Homo sapiens: one gene and its partner. The protein of the gene in region 2 purifies or fractionates together with the protein of the main gene of each other region. This does not show direct contact. Each region holds a gene or a part of one and is shown on either strand. Other genes may lie near its edges. The genes, in order: PAK2 and OCRL.

The links.
Region 1: the proteins of OCRL (region 2) and PAK2 purify together in Homo sapiens (affinity purification with mass spectrometry; 2 studies listed by BioGRID and IntAct, with this or other methods). This does not show direct contact.

Annotation. Positions count from the first base shown.
Region 1 is NC_000003.12:196,804,854-196,813,664, reverse strand, and holds part of PAK2 (serine/threonine-protein kinase PAK 2), read right to left. Parts: intron 8,314-8,811; coding exon 8,282-8,313; intron 7,087-8,281; coding exon 6,979-7,086; intron 5,884-6,978; coding exon 5,751-5,883; intron 3,076-5,750; coding exon 3,012-3,075; intron 1,447-3,011; coding exon 1,398-1,446; intron 927-1,397; coding exon 814-926; intron 1-813. UniProt on the Homo sapiens protein: Serine/threonine protein kinase that plays a role in a variety of different signaling pathways including cytoskeleton regulation, cell motility, cell cycle progression, apoptosis or proliferation.
Region 2 is NC_000023.11:129,584,681-129,592,258, reverse strand, and holds part of OCRL (inositol polyphosphate 5-phosphatase OCRL), read right to left. Parts: intron 5,258-7,578; coding exon 5,141-5,257; intron 4,081-5,140; coding exon 3,996-4,080; intron 3,374-3,995; coding exon 3,246-3,373; intron 2,415-3,245; coding exon 2,303-2,414; intron 2,114-2,302; coding exon 1,989-2,113; 3' UTR 1-1,988. UniProt on the Homo sapiens protein: Catalyzes the hydrolysis of the 5-position phosphate of phosphatidylinositol 4,5-bisphosphate (PtdIns(4,5)P2) and phosphatidylinositol-3,4,5-bisphosphate (PtdIns(3,4,5)P3), with the greatest catalytic activity towards PtdIns(4,5)P2.

The DNA of each region.
Region 1 (8,811 bases), on a different chromosome or scaffold from region 2:
AGTTTATTTCTATGAACATGTTCTCCATAACTAGGGATAAAGTCTCTAAACATTATTTTTTCCTCATTCTAAACAAATTTAAATATGGAAGAAAATCACCTATAATCACCTCTATCTTCAATAAAACCACTGTTATCATTTTCAACGAATCTTCTCTCATGCAGTTGTAGTAATATACATCATTTTCTTTTCTTTTTTTTTTTTTTTGAGATGGAGTCTCATTCCATTGCCCAGGCTGGAGTGCAGTGGTGCGATCTCGGCTCACTGCAACCTCCACCTCCTGGGTTCAAGCAATTCTCCTGCCTCAGCCTCCTGAGTAGCTGGGATTACAGGTGTGAGCCACTGCACCCAGCCAATATGCATCATTTTCTATTCTGCTTTTTGGTCTGTTATTTAACATTAATTCCTCAACTAAATGAGGTTTTGATAGACATATAAATTTGTCCATGAAGGATAGCATTTGAAATAAAAATTGATCCACAAGTTTAAAAACCATGTAACCAGTCCCCTCTGTCAGTCAAGACACGAATCACAGCCAACCATTCATGTGTTCGCTTCAGGTCGTTTGCGATGAGTATAAACACCACCAGCTATGGCCTTCAATTAACTGCCTTCTCTCACCTGCCAAGTGATGTCCTTGCAGAGAAGGACCTTCTAAAACTGCACTGTGCTATTTTTACCTCTCCTCTTCTTTCTTCCATCTTATTTCTCGGCACTGACAGTTTATTCCAAAGTGGCCAGCCCCACCCCCGAAACCATGAGACTTAAAATTTCTACATTTTCTCCCGGTGTTTAAGGAATAGTCATACTTACCTGTCCAAAAAGTTAACGATGTTGGGATTTTTCAATTCTTTCATCACCAGAATCTCGTTAATGATCAGTTCCTTCTTTGGCTGTTTCTGTAAATTAATTTGTTTGATAGCAACCTATAATGAAAACAGGATTGAAAAAAACCAGGTTTAGGAATTCTCTTAGAAAATTACAAACCCCAAGCAGTTGATAACTCACGGTACGTGTACTGTATTACACCATGCTATTACTCCCAGGTGGCACCTTGCCTTGCACACTGCCTGTGCACAATGCTTTGTAATGTTTAGAACCTAGTTTTAGATTTATCTTGAAGTTGATTAATACACCCACAGTCAGTCCAATACTAAGAATTAATCCTCTTTTCACTTCAAGCTGAGGAAACAATTTTTAAGTATTTGCTTATTTATGACATTGAACTCATAAGTCCTTCCCCGCCTTACTGACAGAAGTGCTATAAACATACGTAGAGCGATTCTTACAACGGGCTCAACTTAAAAGAGGTTCCTATTGCTTCTTCCCAGCTTCATCTAGTTTCCACCTATATGACAAAATAATGGTAACACCCAGGATTACAACAAAGTAACTACCTCCTGTCCCAGTGCAACGTCAGTAGCAGTGAAAACTGTACCAGAAGCCCTAGAGGGAGAAAACACACAACCAGATTTAAGGTTGATAAATCACTAGCATTTGCAATATCCAAAGACTTTACACTTCAAGCAATTGAAAAAGAATTAAAGAACAGGATGACCTAACGTGCTTAAAAGGAGTAAAAGCAAAAACCTGAGGAAAGGGGGTGGGGGAAGAAAGAGACAATCCTTACGGCAAAACTTATGTGTGAAATATTTCAGACCTACAAAAATGTAGGGAAAAAAGAGCAGGAAAAAAATTATATAACATATACTTAAGGATACACTTCCCTGATTAAGATACAAATAACTGTAAATAATTTGAAGATTCCCATAAGCCCTTTCCGACAGCAGTCTCCTTCCTCCCAAAGGTGATCTGTATTTGGTGTTTATCCTGTATTTGGTGTTCATCATTTTCATGCATTTCTCCATACTTTTAACTACAAAGGACGCAGATATGTATCCCTATAAAATATACTTTGTCTAATTTTTAAACGTCATATAGTTTCATTTCACATATTATTCTGCAACTTGCTTTTGTGACTCAACACTGGATTTGTGATGGTCATCCATATGGATAGGTATTGCTTGTTCATTCATGCTCAAAAATAGTAAGATAATCTTCAATTCTCTTTCATAAAACCAGTGCTGCAATTGAATTTAGCTGTTAGGAAGAAATTCAGGCCTGGTGCAGTGGCTCACACCTGTAATCCCAACACTTTGGGAGGCTGAGGCAGAAGAATCGTTTGAACCCGGGAGGCAGAGGTTGCAGTGAGCTGAGATTATGTCACTGCACTCCAGCCTGAGTGACAGACTCCGCCAAAAAAAAAAAAAAAAAAAAAGGGAAGGAAGGAAGAGAAGGAAGGGAAGGGAGGGAAGGAAGGGAGGGAAGGGAGGGAAGGGAAGGAAGGAAAGGAAGGGAAGGAAGGGAGGGAGGGAAGGGAGGGAAGGGAGGGAAGGGAAGGAAGGGAGGGAGGGGAGGGAGGGAAGGAAGGGAAGGGAAGGGAGGGAGGGAAGGGAAGGAAGGGAGGAAGGAATTCATATGGAAGTTTTCAAAAATGGCTTAAGCCCTCACTCTAAATTCACAGAATGCTTTCCAGAGTTTAATAACATTAAAAATTTAGGTGTTTATTTGCTTCCAAGCAACAGAAAAAAGGAGTTTAGTTAGTATACTTTAAAAATACAAATTACACAACAAAATCAGAAGATCAGTAGACTCAAAAGTCAATACACAATGACATGATTTAAATGCATTTTTTATTGCTTATAGTCATGCAGTAAATATTCTTATTGTCTTTTAAATATATTTTATGGGCAATTCTTCCCTCTAATTATCACAGATGGGAAATGACACTTAAGAAAAAATAATGATACACAGTCATTGCTAACAACTAGTACAGTTTTTTAACAGCATCTACAAATAACTGCATTATTTATTTACACAAATCCCCCAAGGGTACCACTCACAGAATACTATATAAGTACTTGATGTCGGCAGGCAAAATAAACATCATGCTATAAAGCCAGGAAATACTGAATACTGAATATTATCGTAATACAGTCACAAATACTTACCCTTGTCCAATTTTTTCATATCTTGTATATTTTTTCTTAGGGTCACCTATGCTCACGATAGTTCCTAGAATAAACAAAAAGCTGGAAGCTCAGTCAAGCATTTTAAGTGTAAATTGATTGTGATATTATTATTCCTTTTAATGAACTCCACTGTTTTTATAAGTGATTTTCAAACATAATACTAAGTTCCAAAAATAACAGGTTTCAAACACAAAACACTAAAGAAACTTAAATACATAATAAAAGTTTAAAAGTATCAGAAACAAGACACATTAAAAGTTTAAAAGTAACAGAAACAAGAAGACACATTATTTCCATTAGGTTAGACCTCCTAACTAATCATTTGCTCAATAATGGTCACATTTTGAAAAGACTGTACCAGTTTGTCAGAGATTAATTAGGTTCTCAGATGTTCAGCTTTAGAATCAGGTAATCTCAAGAAAATAGACATATTTGAATATAAAATAGATATATTTGAATATAGAAATAGATATATTTGAATATATCTATTAATAGGTAAGTTTGAGACTACTTAGTATTATAAATAATAAAGGCTATCTAAACCCTAAATGGTCTTTCTGACTCTTCCAGTATACATTTCATCTTTCAATATATTTAGAAAACCACTTATTACCATAAAAATTACTATGCTCTGACATAAACTAATCATATGTTTGTTTTAGGAAAGTTCAAAGTCACAAGAAAGAGGTTTTAAAATTAGGAAGTTGGACATAAAATCCTAACTTATATTCTTATTACTAGTAAGAAAAACCACATTAAACTTTCACTTGCTCAAGGTAAAAAAGGACAGGACCATATCAAGGAAACTGACATAAATAGTTTTATGTAGGTACCCAACCTCAAGTCAACAAGCAAAGAAACAGGATCAATAATAAGAGGCTAAGAACAAAAAGATACCAAAAAGACTGGGGATGTGACAGCTAAAGGTCACAACTAAATGATGACAATTAGGATTCTAGTTAATTTTTTTTTTTTTTTTAAGTAGCAGCTCTCCTAAAATAATTCTTATATGCTCATAGAGTAACAGAGCAGGCCAGGTGTGGTGACTCATGCCTGAGGTCAGGAGTTTGAGACCAGCCCAGCCAACATGGTGAAACCCCATCTCTACTAAAACTACAAAAATTAGCGGGGTGTGGTGGCGCACACCTGTAGCCCCAGCTACTCGGGAGGCTGAGGCAGAAGAAACGCTTGAACTGGAGAGGCAGAGATTGCAGTGAGCCACGCCACTGCACTCCAGCCTGGGTGACAGAGCGAGACTCTGTCTCAAAAAAAAAAAAAAAAAAAGATAATAATAATAACAGAGTAAGAGCCAGGTTTATACTTGAAAGCACTGAGAAATCAAAACCAAATAAACATGGGGCATATAAACATTTGTTTATTTTTTAGAGACAGGGTCTCACTCTGTCACCCAGGCTGGAGTGCAGTGGCGCAATCACAGCTCACTACAGCCTTGAACTCACGGGCTCAAGCAATCCTCCTGCCTCAGGCTCCCAGTCAGCTGGGACTACAGACATGCACCACCAGGTCTCGTTAATTTTCTTTTTTTCTTTTTTTTTTGAGGGGGTGGAGTCGGGGTCTAAGTTGTATAGTTCGGCCTTGAACTCCTGGACTCCAGCTATCCTCCTATCTTGGCCAGCCAACGTACCGAGATTATAGGTTTGAGCCACTATGCCCAGGCTTTATGTTTAAAACAATCCTTCCATACAGTATTTTTCCTTGAACCCTCTAGATTAGCATTCTTTAATTGTTAATTTTATTTATTATTATTTTTTGAGACTGAGTCTCGCTCTTTCGCCCAGGCTGGAGTGCAGTGGCACGATCTCGGCTCACTGCAATCTCCGCCTCCCAGGTTCAAGTGATTCTCCTGCCTTAGCTCCCCAAGTAGCTGGGATTACAGGCACCTGCCATGACACCTTGCTAATTTTTGTTTTTAGTAGAGATGGGGTTTTGCCACATTGGCCAGGCTAGTCTTGCTCCTGACCTCAAGTGATCCACCCACCTTGGTCTCCCAAAGTGCTGGGATTATAGGCATGAGCCACAGTGCCCGGCCGGTTCGCTTTTTTTTTTTTTTTTTTGAGATGGAGTCTCACTGTTGCCAGGCTGGAGTGCAGTGGCGCGATCTCGGCTCACTATAACCTCCGCCTCCCGGGTTCAAGTGATTCTCTTGCCTCAGCCTCCCAAGCAGCTGGTACTACAGGCACATGCCACCATGCCCAGCTGATTTTTGTATTTTTAGTAGAGGAGGGGTTTCACCATACTGGCCAGGATGGTCTCGATCTCCTGACCTTGTGATCCGCCCACCTCGGCCTCCCAAAGTGCTGGGATTACAGGCGTGAGCCACCGCGCCCAGCCCAACGACGCAATCTTGGCTCACTGCAACCTCCACCTCCTGGGTTCAAGTGATTCTCTTGCCTCAGCCTCCAAGTAGCTGGGATTACAGGCACATGCCAGCACATCCAGCTAATTTTTGTATTTTTAGTAGAGACGGGGTTTCACCATGTTGGCCAGGCTGGTCTTGATCTCCTGACCTAGTGCTGGGATTTAGGGGTGAACCTGGTGACATCACCAGATTGTAATTGAAGCTACTGTTGCTATAAGGAAACAATTTATTCTTTATACTTTAAGTCACAATGTAAAGTGTAAGTTAAAATCCATCTGGGCCAAATGTTTTAAGAGCCGTGAACAATTTAACAATGATGTAAAATGTAGATAACATACTTAATTTCTCCATAATCTCTTCATCTGTCATCTTAGTCTTCTTTTTCTGTTTGTCTAAAGACTTGGCAGCACCATCAACATGTGAATCACCAACTGGTGCAGGAACAGGGTCAATTACAGACCGTGTGTAAATCTGTGGAGACACAGTTCATTACCAAGGTTTGAGGAATAATGTTTTCAGATATTCTTCCTGGCAAACTAATTCAGTTCTTTGATTTTTAACCTGAACTAAGTAGTCTTTTCCATTGTTCTAAATAATGAGAACACTATTTTCAGATATAAAAGATGTGTAACTAAGAAGAATAAATGTGAAACATTTTTCTTTGGCATAGCATGAATATATTTGAAAAGCTGTCTAGTAAAACAGCAGGTCCATGAATGAAATTTAAGTGTGACCAGGTCTAAAATGGTATAACAATGTATCAAAAAGCACGGTTTAAAAATCATGTTTTTACTACAAATGGTAAGTAAAATGCAAAAGAACAGAAACCTTGATGTTGAAATAACTATTATTAATTCCCATGAAAGTTTTTACACAATTATAATGCCTACCACCCATTTCAAACAGCCAGATTGAAAGGCTAAAGAAAACGGAGTCCTCTGCCATCAGCTTGGCATCCAGAGGCTGTCTCCTGAGCTCTGCCTGCCCGCTGTGCCAGGAGCACAGCCCATTCCACGGCACAGCACCTTCCGCACACTCTACCTGCAGTACTGAAGGGAGCAGAATGGTAACCGCAGTCATTCCTCTCTTCCTGGCTCCATTTAAGGTCATCATTTTTAAAATTCTCCCTTACCTGGTTAGGAATTTCATTCTCAACTGCCTTTTGAATGACAGCAAGGCGCTGAGAGTAGTGTAAAATGGGAGATTAAAATGCATAATCTGGGTAAGAGGAAAGCTCTAAGTTTTAGATTTAGTCGTCATCTACATTGAGATAAACAGAGAAAGCTTGGGAAATAGACGAACCCTCTGGAAAAGGTGTACTATACAAAGAAAAAAGCCCAGTGAGGTGAGTGCGTTAACTTTTAAAGACATCACATTTTAATCTTCAGAAAACTAGTTTTAGGTGAGTGGTCTTTGGGTACAGATTTCTTGGTTAAATTTCCCCATACTAAACGATTTTAAACTTGAGGGCTTTTTAAAAGCAATCACTGAAAGTCAAATACAAACTCTGCTATTTTTTAAAACACACGTGCACACACACAGCCTAGATCACCGATGGAGACTCACTGATTTCGTATGATCCGGTCGCGGGGCAATAACGGGAGGAGCAGTCTCTTCATCATCATCCTCCTCCTCTGTCACTACTGCGGGTGCTTCTGTTCCCTTGGCATTCAGCTGCATTGATGATGAGCAAAGTAAGGAAAACAAGTCCAATAGGCTTAAATGCGACTATCGCCCTTTATGAACGTACTTCAAAAAGTTTGCTTCTTTGATAGCTCATTTCAAAACCACTAAATCTCATTAGCTCTTAGATAACTCAATAGAATTATAATCTAACATAATAAGGCGATTCTATGAATCATGAAAAAGTTTATGAAATATATATATATGGTGAGTACCAAATATTTTAATAAAGTTACCCTAAGCATACATATACAATGTCCTGAAAGTAAACAATGTTACTTGTTAAGACCAAAATCAAAGATCCTCTGGGCTTTGTTATGTCAGAGACATCTGGTGACATTTAAAACAGTCAGATTTGGGGCCGGGCATGGTGGCTCACGTCTGTAATCCCAGCACTTTGGGAGGCCGAGGTGGGTGGATCACAAGGTCAGGAGATCAAGACCATCCTGGCTAACACGGTAAAACCCCGTCTCTACTAAAAACACAAAAAATTAGCTGGTCGTGGTGGCAGGCGCCTGTAGTCCCAGCTACTCGGGAGGCTGAGGCAGGAGAATGGAGTGAACCCAGAAGACGGTGCGTGCAGTGAGCCAAGATTGCGCCACTGCACTCCAGCCTGGGCGACAGAGCGAGACTCTAACTCAAAAAAAATAAAAATAAAATAAATAAATAAATAAAATAAAATAAAATATAAAAAAATAAAACTCCAGGAGACTGTTTCCTCCCAATTGAGAAACTGCAAATAAAACGACTGTTTCCAAAAACTGACTGTGTTTATGCGATAACTTAAGTTTCAGATGACTCTGAAGACTGACAAGGTTCAACTGTTCAGCACCTTTCCACAGTCTATATTCAGTAAAATAGTACCAGAAGGAAAACTGAGGGATGGAGAGGAAAATATATGCTAGCAAGTTCTTTGTGTTCACGTTTGTATATGTTAACATTACCAAAACTAACTAAACTGTTCTGAAGGTCATTATAAATTTTAGTTACATTAAGTATCACATCAAGGAATTTCTATTTAATACGGCTTCTTCAACTAATCAGGTGGCTAGCTAAAAACACCTATTGAGTAGTTATTTACCTCTGATGGCTGTAATTTATTTTAGAAAGCAAAATAAAAACTGAGATTTGTCTTGGGTAACCTAAATTAGAACAAGAGATACAAGAAATAATATAATTAACTTACTGCTGGTGTTCCAGAAGGAAAGCCATCTTTCTCTGAATATGAAACAAAACATAACATTAGCAATTCAAGAAACAGCACTTTTATATGATAAAAGGAAAAAAAAAAAGCAGAGAAAGTGAAATGTTCTTAAACTGATTTCAAGTTGAATTAACTCTTGAGAAAAATGAACACGCAAGTAGTCAAATAAGAATTTATATAAGACCAAGGTAAGAAATCTGAAATCTACATGAAACTATAAATTTAGTAAAAATCAGTGAATTATATATTTAAAATGGGTGAATTGTATTGCATGTAAATTATACCTCAATAAAGCTATCAAAATTTAGTTTGAAAGTATACCTATCAATCTGTATTTATTAAAACAAAACAAATTTATTGATAAAGATACTTTCTCCAGAAAACTGCTGACTGAGGAACTTAATGCAACAATTAAGACAATGACAATTGTGCAAAGTAAAATTCTGACATTGTTTTGTTTTTCTTTTAAAAATGCCCAGAGACATACATATATGTGTGTGTGTGTGTATATG
Region 2 (7,578 bases):
TACAGGTTGGGGTGCTGGAATAGCCATGGTAGGGAAGCAGATTTCTTCTGTCTGGGTCTACATCTTGTCTCCTCTACCTAGAGATTGTCTAAAACTCTCAACTCTGTATATGTTCCAGGATGAGCTGAAAAAAGGTCGAGGCAGTACACCAACTTAGTGTTTTGATCTGATGTAGAAAGAGATAGGATACTGCATACGTGCAGCACAGAGCCTCCACTAACCACACCCTTGATCACCCAAAGATCCCAGGTCAGTGATATGCTAGAAAACAAGCCCAGGAAAGGTATTTCCCTGTGGTATGACCCTACCCCAGTGTCTATCATCTGCCTCTTTTTGTGATCACTTTCTGGCCTTGCGGAGATGACAAACCTGTTCTGCTCTCAGTCTTCCATTAACTAAGTTCAACACCTAGCCCCTGACCTATCATACCTCCAGATCTGTGGCACCAGTAACTTGACTCCTATTGCTTTAACTCTCAATCAGGAAAGGGTTTAGCCATATTGCAGAATACGTACCTTCCCCCCCACCCCCACCAAGAAACAGGAGAAATCACTGGTGGTGCCTTGGATATGCTAGAAATGTCACAGAGTCAATGCCCAGGATTGTACATACAGCCTGTACGTTATGCTCCTTGCAATTAATGTAAACAGGCAAGGGTGGTTGTAACAAAAGAAAACCAGGAGGAACCCAACTGCATCAGGCAGTTTTGCAGTCAGTGGTTGGTGGCTTGTTTGTCAACCAATATAGATTAATTTATTTTAAAAAAAGGCTGTACCACAGAGCTTGAATAAATGAAAAGCTCAGAGGGTCATCTTGTATGGGAGAGGTAAGGTGCTTGGTTGGTCCTGTTGGCCAGTCTCTTTACACAACACTGGATATGGTGACTGGGAGCCAAGGGGAGTCTCTAAACCCTTTATGTGAAGGAGCTGGTTGTAGAGCCCAGAGTCAGTCCTGCTGAGGAAGGAGGTGACATCTGCCCTTGGTATTTCAGAAGACCAGAGAATGGATTCTAAGGGTCATCCACAATACCTTTGCTGTGGGAAGGAGCAATAGCTCTAGATGGGCCTGCCTGAGGTACAAGACTTCCTCTTTTACTGTGGGGCCAGTGTTGCTCTGGAGGTGGATGTCTAGGCAGGAGATGGGTCTCAGAGACACCCAGGATTAGTCCTTGTGTAAAATTTGAATAATAACAGGAAAAGGATAGTGGGAAGCAGGACCTGTCAAACATGAATGCTCTCACTCTTCAGATACTCAAAGTGCTTCCATTCTGATTGTGATTCTCTCTCATCGATGAGATGCCATCTCTAATAGTCCCTACAGTTATGCTACTAAATGTGATCTAAGAGAATATGGTTCCACCCAGTGTGGAGCCATGAAAAGGCCAATGTTACAGAGACATAAAGATGCCATTGTAGTAGAAATGCACAAATGCATGTAATAACTGCACGCAGACAGTGAATTCACTGTTGAGGACACCCAAGGAGTCACTAGCCTCACTCAGACTTCGTTCAAAGTGACAGAACGAGGGGAGTGGAGTGCAAAGGAGTGATCCAGGAAGGGGTGGGTCAAAAGTGCAAAACAAAGGACTCTAGACAAGTCTCAGCTACAGCAAGTAGTGCTTGTAGGCCTAGAATGGGAAGATCTCAGAATCTAGGCCTAGGGTACTAAGGACAATCATGACAATTGGGTAGGAGGGCAACAAACACATCCCTAGGTGAAGGAGTGTAAATACAGATCTTTTTGCCTTATAAAGAGAAAACACAAAAACACCAAAATATGGTAACTTTGGCTTGGCAATATAAGTCTAAAAGTATTTTTCTGTGTAGGATATGGTAAAGGAGGGATTAGGAAACGCTCTTCCTTTTTACTATAAACAGAACTTGAAATTCTGCAATAGACCCTTCCTGTGGCATGACTTTTTAAATCATTCTGAAATACTTGGAGCCCGAGATCGTCTGCTTCTAGAATATCAGAGAACAGTAAAAGCCTTAGTCTTCTTCGCTCCCAAGCAGAAAGCCCAGAAGGAACTGAATAGCACGCTGGCGGTCACTTGGAGTCTGTCTTGCCATAAGGTTGGGTGGAGGCCTCAGGAGAAGACTAGTGAAGAGAGTAGCTACAAGACGAGAGAAAGACAAGCGGAAACTTCTGTCAGACATAACCTAAGCAAAACCTCAGGGCTGGAGGGCCTGGGGACAAGGACTATTGACTGCCATGTGCCTGCATATGCAGTAAGGTATATACTGGATACAATGCACTAAGAGTATTCTCAACAAACGCCCCGTGTTGCATGAAGCACTCTTACCGATCATGTTGGCATTGACGCTATTGTATTCAGAGAATTTTAAGAGTTCTCGAAGGAATGCCATCAAGTAACGGAAAACATTTCTATGGCATCTCGGAAGCTGGGAGATCACCTGTTTTTAAAAATAGGGGCAGGCAGTGAGAAAAACAGGTGGAAGATGAAAGTAAGAGGAACTTACAGCTGCTGTAATAGTAGTCTATAATCCAACCCTTGCAGGACCCATTTCATCTGTCTAACTTCTATTATCTCCTCATGGCCAACACAATACCTTCCAAATTATAACTTCAAAGTAAGAGTGGCCGTGCTGTTTGGTCCCTGTCCACTCAATGACCAGGCCACGTGGTCATCACACATTCATACGCACACCCTGCCTCACAATAGGTCAGTGTTCATCTGTTCTTTTCCCATTTCCGTAGGCATGTAGCCACGGCACCTACCAAGCTGAATGGTTTTCTGTTCTTTTTTGTTTGAATGGTTTTCTTTACAATGTCACTTAGCATGGATGGGGACTCCTCTCAATACTCACTAGTCCAATTCACAGGTACTGTCAGCTACTGTGCATTAAAATCATTTCAGGATTAAAAACACACACCAAGAAGAGAAAAAGAAGAAAGGCTCCCAAGTGTCACCCATCCTTCCTGGTAATGTCAGCCAGAATTCCACGTACAATCAGCTTCACCAATTTACCCCAGAGTAGAGGGATCCACCCCACTATGTTTTCTGTAAACAGAAATAGGCCAATGGGAAAAAGGTGGCAAATATCGTAGGAAACAACACAACCTAAAATTTAAGGGTAGCAACTCTCAATGTTGGTGTCCTGCCATTAATAACAGATGCAGACCCATCCTACCAGACAGCTGGCTGCCTATCTGGCTCTGTAAAACTGACGACTTCTCTATGGGGCAATCTGCGTCAAACACATCCCCAGGTCAGTAGAACCCACCTGTCGGCAGATCCGGGGATCATAAGCAGAGTCAAGACATCGCTGATACAGCTCGTAACAGATGACTGGCTCTGGCAGGGCTTCCAAGAAAATGAGCAGTGCTTCAGCCACAGAGTGGTTGCTGCCAGCTGAATCAACTTAAGTCAAGGGAAAGGAGCTCCAGGAGAAAGGCCACACAGAGCCCCGACGAGCTCCTTTCCTCAAGCTCCTACAGGGACTGTTTCCCTCCTCTTATTCAGGGCACATTGATCCTAATGGGGGTTTGATATTTTATTGATTCAAGTGCCCTGCAGGTGAGTTGTTACAGAATTGGTCAAAGACTCTTGGCAGCTTTGGCCCAGCTTCAGGGTCAGGGGAATATAGCCTGCAGAGTGACAGTTGACACTGGAGCAGTCCTATAAACCAGGTGCCCATGTTTCCCATCCTTCTCCCTGCCCTGTCAACAGTACGTGTGGTGGCAGGAGTGACTGATCACCTGAAGGAGAATAGTACCAGTGCTGTGGCTTCTATGTCCCATGCTTTTAAGTCATTGTTATCTACCCCTTGCTTCCTTTTAGTAAGAGCTGGATATGGAAAGAGGTCAAAAGTTCCTGAAAGGAAATGAGAAACAAGTGGATAGTCAGTGGTTATCTTATAATAAAAGATATTACAAAGAAAATAAATATAGAACCACAAAAATCAAATATAGGTGCGAAGAAGAGTTTGATCAAGTACTCATCCAGCTTCTTAAGCTTTGGTCGCAAAGGATACGGATTGTCTCAGGAATGCTGGTATCCAGACAATCAATGATCTGCTGGAGCTCTTCCTGCATTCCAGGGGTCTGGAACAGGTCCTCCTACCAAAGAAGTCAGAATGAAGGGACAGGCAAGATAATCACTCCTGAGGTTATGATGATTACCCAAGGATCAGAAGAGCAGCAGGAAGCAAAAGGGAAGGGTGGTATGTGTGTTAATAATTACAAATGGAGGTGTGAAAATAACACATTTTTCCTTTAGCATTTCTCTAATCCATGTGAAATGTTATTTCAAATAGGAAAATGATCTTTTCAAAGGTTTTAGCCTGTACCTAATAAGGCAGGGGACTAGATGGCTAGAGCAGGAAACCAGGTGTTCTAATTCTAGCCTCCTTTAAAATTTTTTTTTATAGAGATGGGGTTTCACCGTGTTGCCCAGGCTGGTCTCAAACTCCTGAGCTCAAGCAATGCGCCCGTCTCTGCCTCCCAAAATGCTGGGATTACAGGCATGAGCCACCATGCCTGGCCTACTTGTAGCCTCTTGACAAGCAGCAGAAGGCAGAGTCCAAACAGAATAACCACATTCAAATGCTAGTACTACTGAACGCTGGGGAAGGAGGAAATCGCATGCTCATACTAAACCTTGCTTTCAAGTTACATTATTCGTCAGTAGGTAAGAGAACATTACCTTTCAATTTAGTCCCAAGAAATATCTCTTTTGGGGGCGAATGAGGTGGGGTGGCATTTTAGTTAGGATTTAAAAGAAAAATTAGGACCAAGTTAAAAAATGGGTTTAAAATCTGCTTTGGATTTTACAATCTCTAATGCCTACATGACTCATAGCCAAAGTAGGCATTATAGACTCAGGTGTGCAGCTGTCCAGGGAAAATGAGAGGGTAGCCAGGAGACAGGTGCTCTTAATTTGGTCCTGGCTCTGCCACAACTACACTTAGGCCTTTGTCTTAGTAAATAACTTACCTTTACATGCTTCAGCTGTGACATCTGTGACTAGGACACTTCCACCCACCCAGTCGATCTGACAGTGCCACTGTGTGCAGGTAGCTTGGGAAAGTTAAAAGCGCTATGCTGACGTGAGGTGTTGTGATTTCCTATAGTAGTTACACACCTTCCAAAGTTGTAGGGAAGGTCTACTCTCACTTACCTGGTGACAGGCGTATTTGAATAGGTGATCTACTAGAAGCCAGATCTCCTTGGGAACCTGAAGGGGTCTCTCACTGGCACCTTCATCCAAAGGAACCATTTGCAGAAGGGATTTCTCCTAATAGATGGAAAAGTATGAGAATCAAAGGGGTCTCAGAATAAAGACTTTGGTGTATAACTTAAAGTCCTTCAAATTCTGGTCATGCAGGTAAAATGTGATCTTCATCTCTTAAGATTTTCCATTTCTTCTCACTGGGGACACTCCTGGTCAGAAGGCACTTGATAGCGAGTCCCATAGTTAAAGGATGTCCTTTCCTAAATGCTTCACTTAATTGTTCTGCATTTCATTTGCGTTTATGATGTTTATTACGTGGATGCCTTGTGTTTAAATCCTTTCAAAGGTGACACTGAGAACCAGTGCTCCGGTGATACAGTCACAGTGGAGTCCATACAGCACTGGTGACTTGGGGACTATTAAATTACAATTGTCAATACAGTAGTTTGAGAGATCAAGGTCTACACTTAGGTTTTTGTTTATTTCTAACTTACTCTTCCTTCAGGTCTTACCACAGATACTGTTGTTTGTTTTCAATGTTGATTTAAATTAGCTTCTTTAGTTTTCAGGAATTAAAGACAACTCTCCACAACATTAGACCCACATATGTAAATACTTCAGGCTTGATGGAAGTTCTAATCTTAAGGTGCTAAAACTCGTAAGCCTTAAGGTCCAAAAATAGTAAACTGAATACAGCTAACCAAGAGGCAGAAATACCACGAAAAGTTTAAGGTCTGAGTCCAGAAGTTACAGTTTCTAGGAATAGCTCAGCCAAGATTTCTAGGGGCTTTTACTCCTTTCATCTATCTTTCTACTATCTGTTATATTCTTCTGAAAGAATTTTGTAAGAGAAAAACCCAGAAGTGACATAAATCAAATCAATCACTATATGTGAATTGGAAATGGCTAGGAAATAAACTCAGTTATCTTAGGTTCATGTAATCAAATATAAATTACATGAAAAAATGTTTGAAATAGTAAAGGCACCTGAAGGCACCCTTCATAAAAATCCCAGTGGAGAGAACCATGACCAATTTTTTTGCATCCTCCTCCCTCCCCCGCCTCTAGCTTGAGGTCATATATATTCTGTATGTTTAACTAAGAAATTCTTGCCTAACATTGTGCAACTTGTGAATTCCATCCACAACCCCCAGTCACGTAGCTTTAAAAGAAAAAAAAAGGAGCATGTCACTACTTTGACAGAGACCACATACACTACAGCCGAGCTGAGGTCTCTTCTTAACATTGTGTTCTTTAACAAGCACTGATGACCTTTAAAAGCTGCTGTGCCTTTCCAAGGGAATAAGAAAGAGAAGGGAGTGTGACAGTTGGTTACCATTTAAAATCTTTCTTTTTTTTCCCCACATTCAGTTTGCTTCCTTTCTTTCCCTGGGATTCTATCACTTGATATTCATGTTCCTAATAGTTGCCAGAATGTCTATCAATGGCTCATCCATTTACTTCTTTCCAGTTACAAATATCAAATCCAAGCATCCACATGGTATTTGAGACAAAACACTGTCCATCATGCACTCTGCTAACTCTCTGGACCAAATGCAGCACGTGTACTGATTCTTTAGCAGATGCCTCCAAACTTGCCATATAGAAATTATGCAGCACTGATTCATGTACTTTTTAAAAAGTCTGACATCCAACTGGAGCTTTTCCTGTACTAAGGCATTAAGGCAACACAAGGCACTGCCTAAGATAAAAAGACAGAACATGGACTGCTCTTAACAGGGAAGAGCTAGGAAGCACAGCTGTCTCAAACCTTGGTGGTTTAAAAAGGTTAATAAAGTGTCAGTAGATTATATACACCATCCACTATTCATTTTCAAATTCCTGTATGATAATATGGAATGCCACAGTTGTGTCTCCAAAGTCTAGAGAAAGATCATACACAGAAAATACTTGAATAATTTCACAAATTATCCTGAACTCTAATTTTCAAAGGAAAACCAAGGTACTTTGTCTTCTTTCAACAAGACACATTCAGCGCCTGATAAGCCCACACTCTGTAACCTTACTTAGTGTTAATAACTAAAGCATGAAAACAGTATACCATCCCCATCATCAAAAGGCATTAAATTCCACCAAGTGGGTACAGTGCATGACTTCAGCAAGTTTTTCAACCTTTCTGGGCCTTGGTTGTCTCATCTATTAGAATGGAGAAAATACCCTGTCTGAAGGTAGAGGCCTGAACCAGATGATCTTTTATGATCTTGTTCAGGTCCACGGTTCTATTCTATGCTCTATTTCTTGATCATATCTGTGTATTTTTTTCTGAAATTAATTGCTATGATCATTAACCTCAAATCATTTTTAATGCAACAGAAAGCTACTTCTTCAGGTTTTATTGTCATTGGAAATGGAGGACAGCTAAC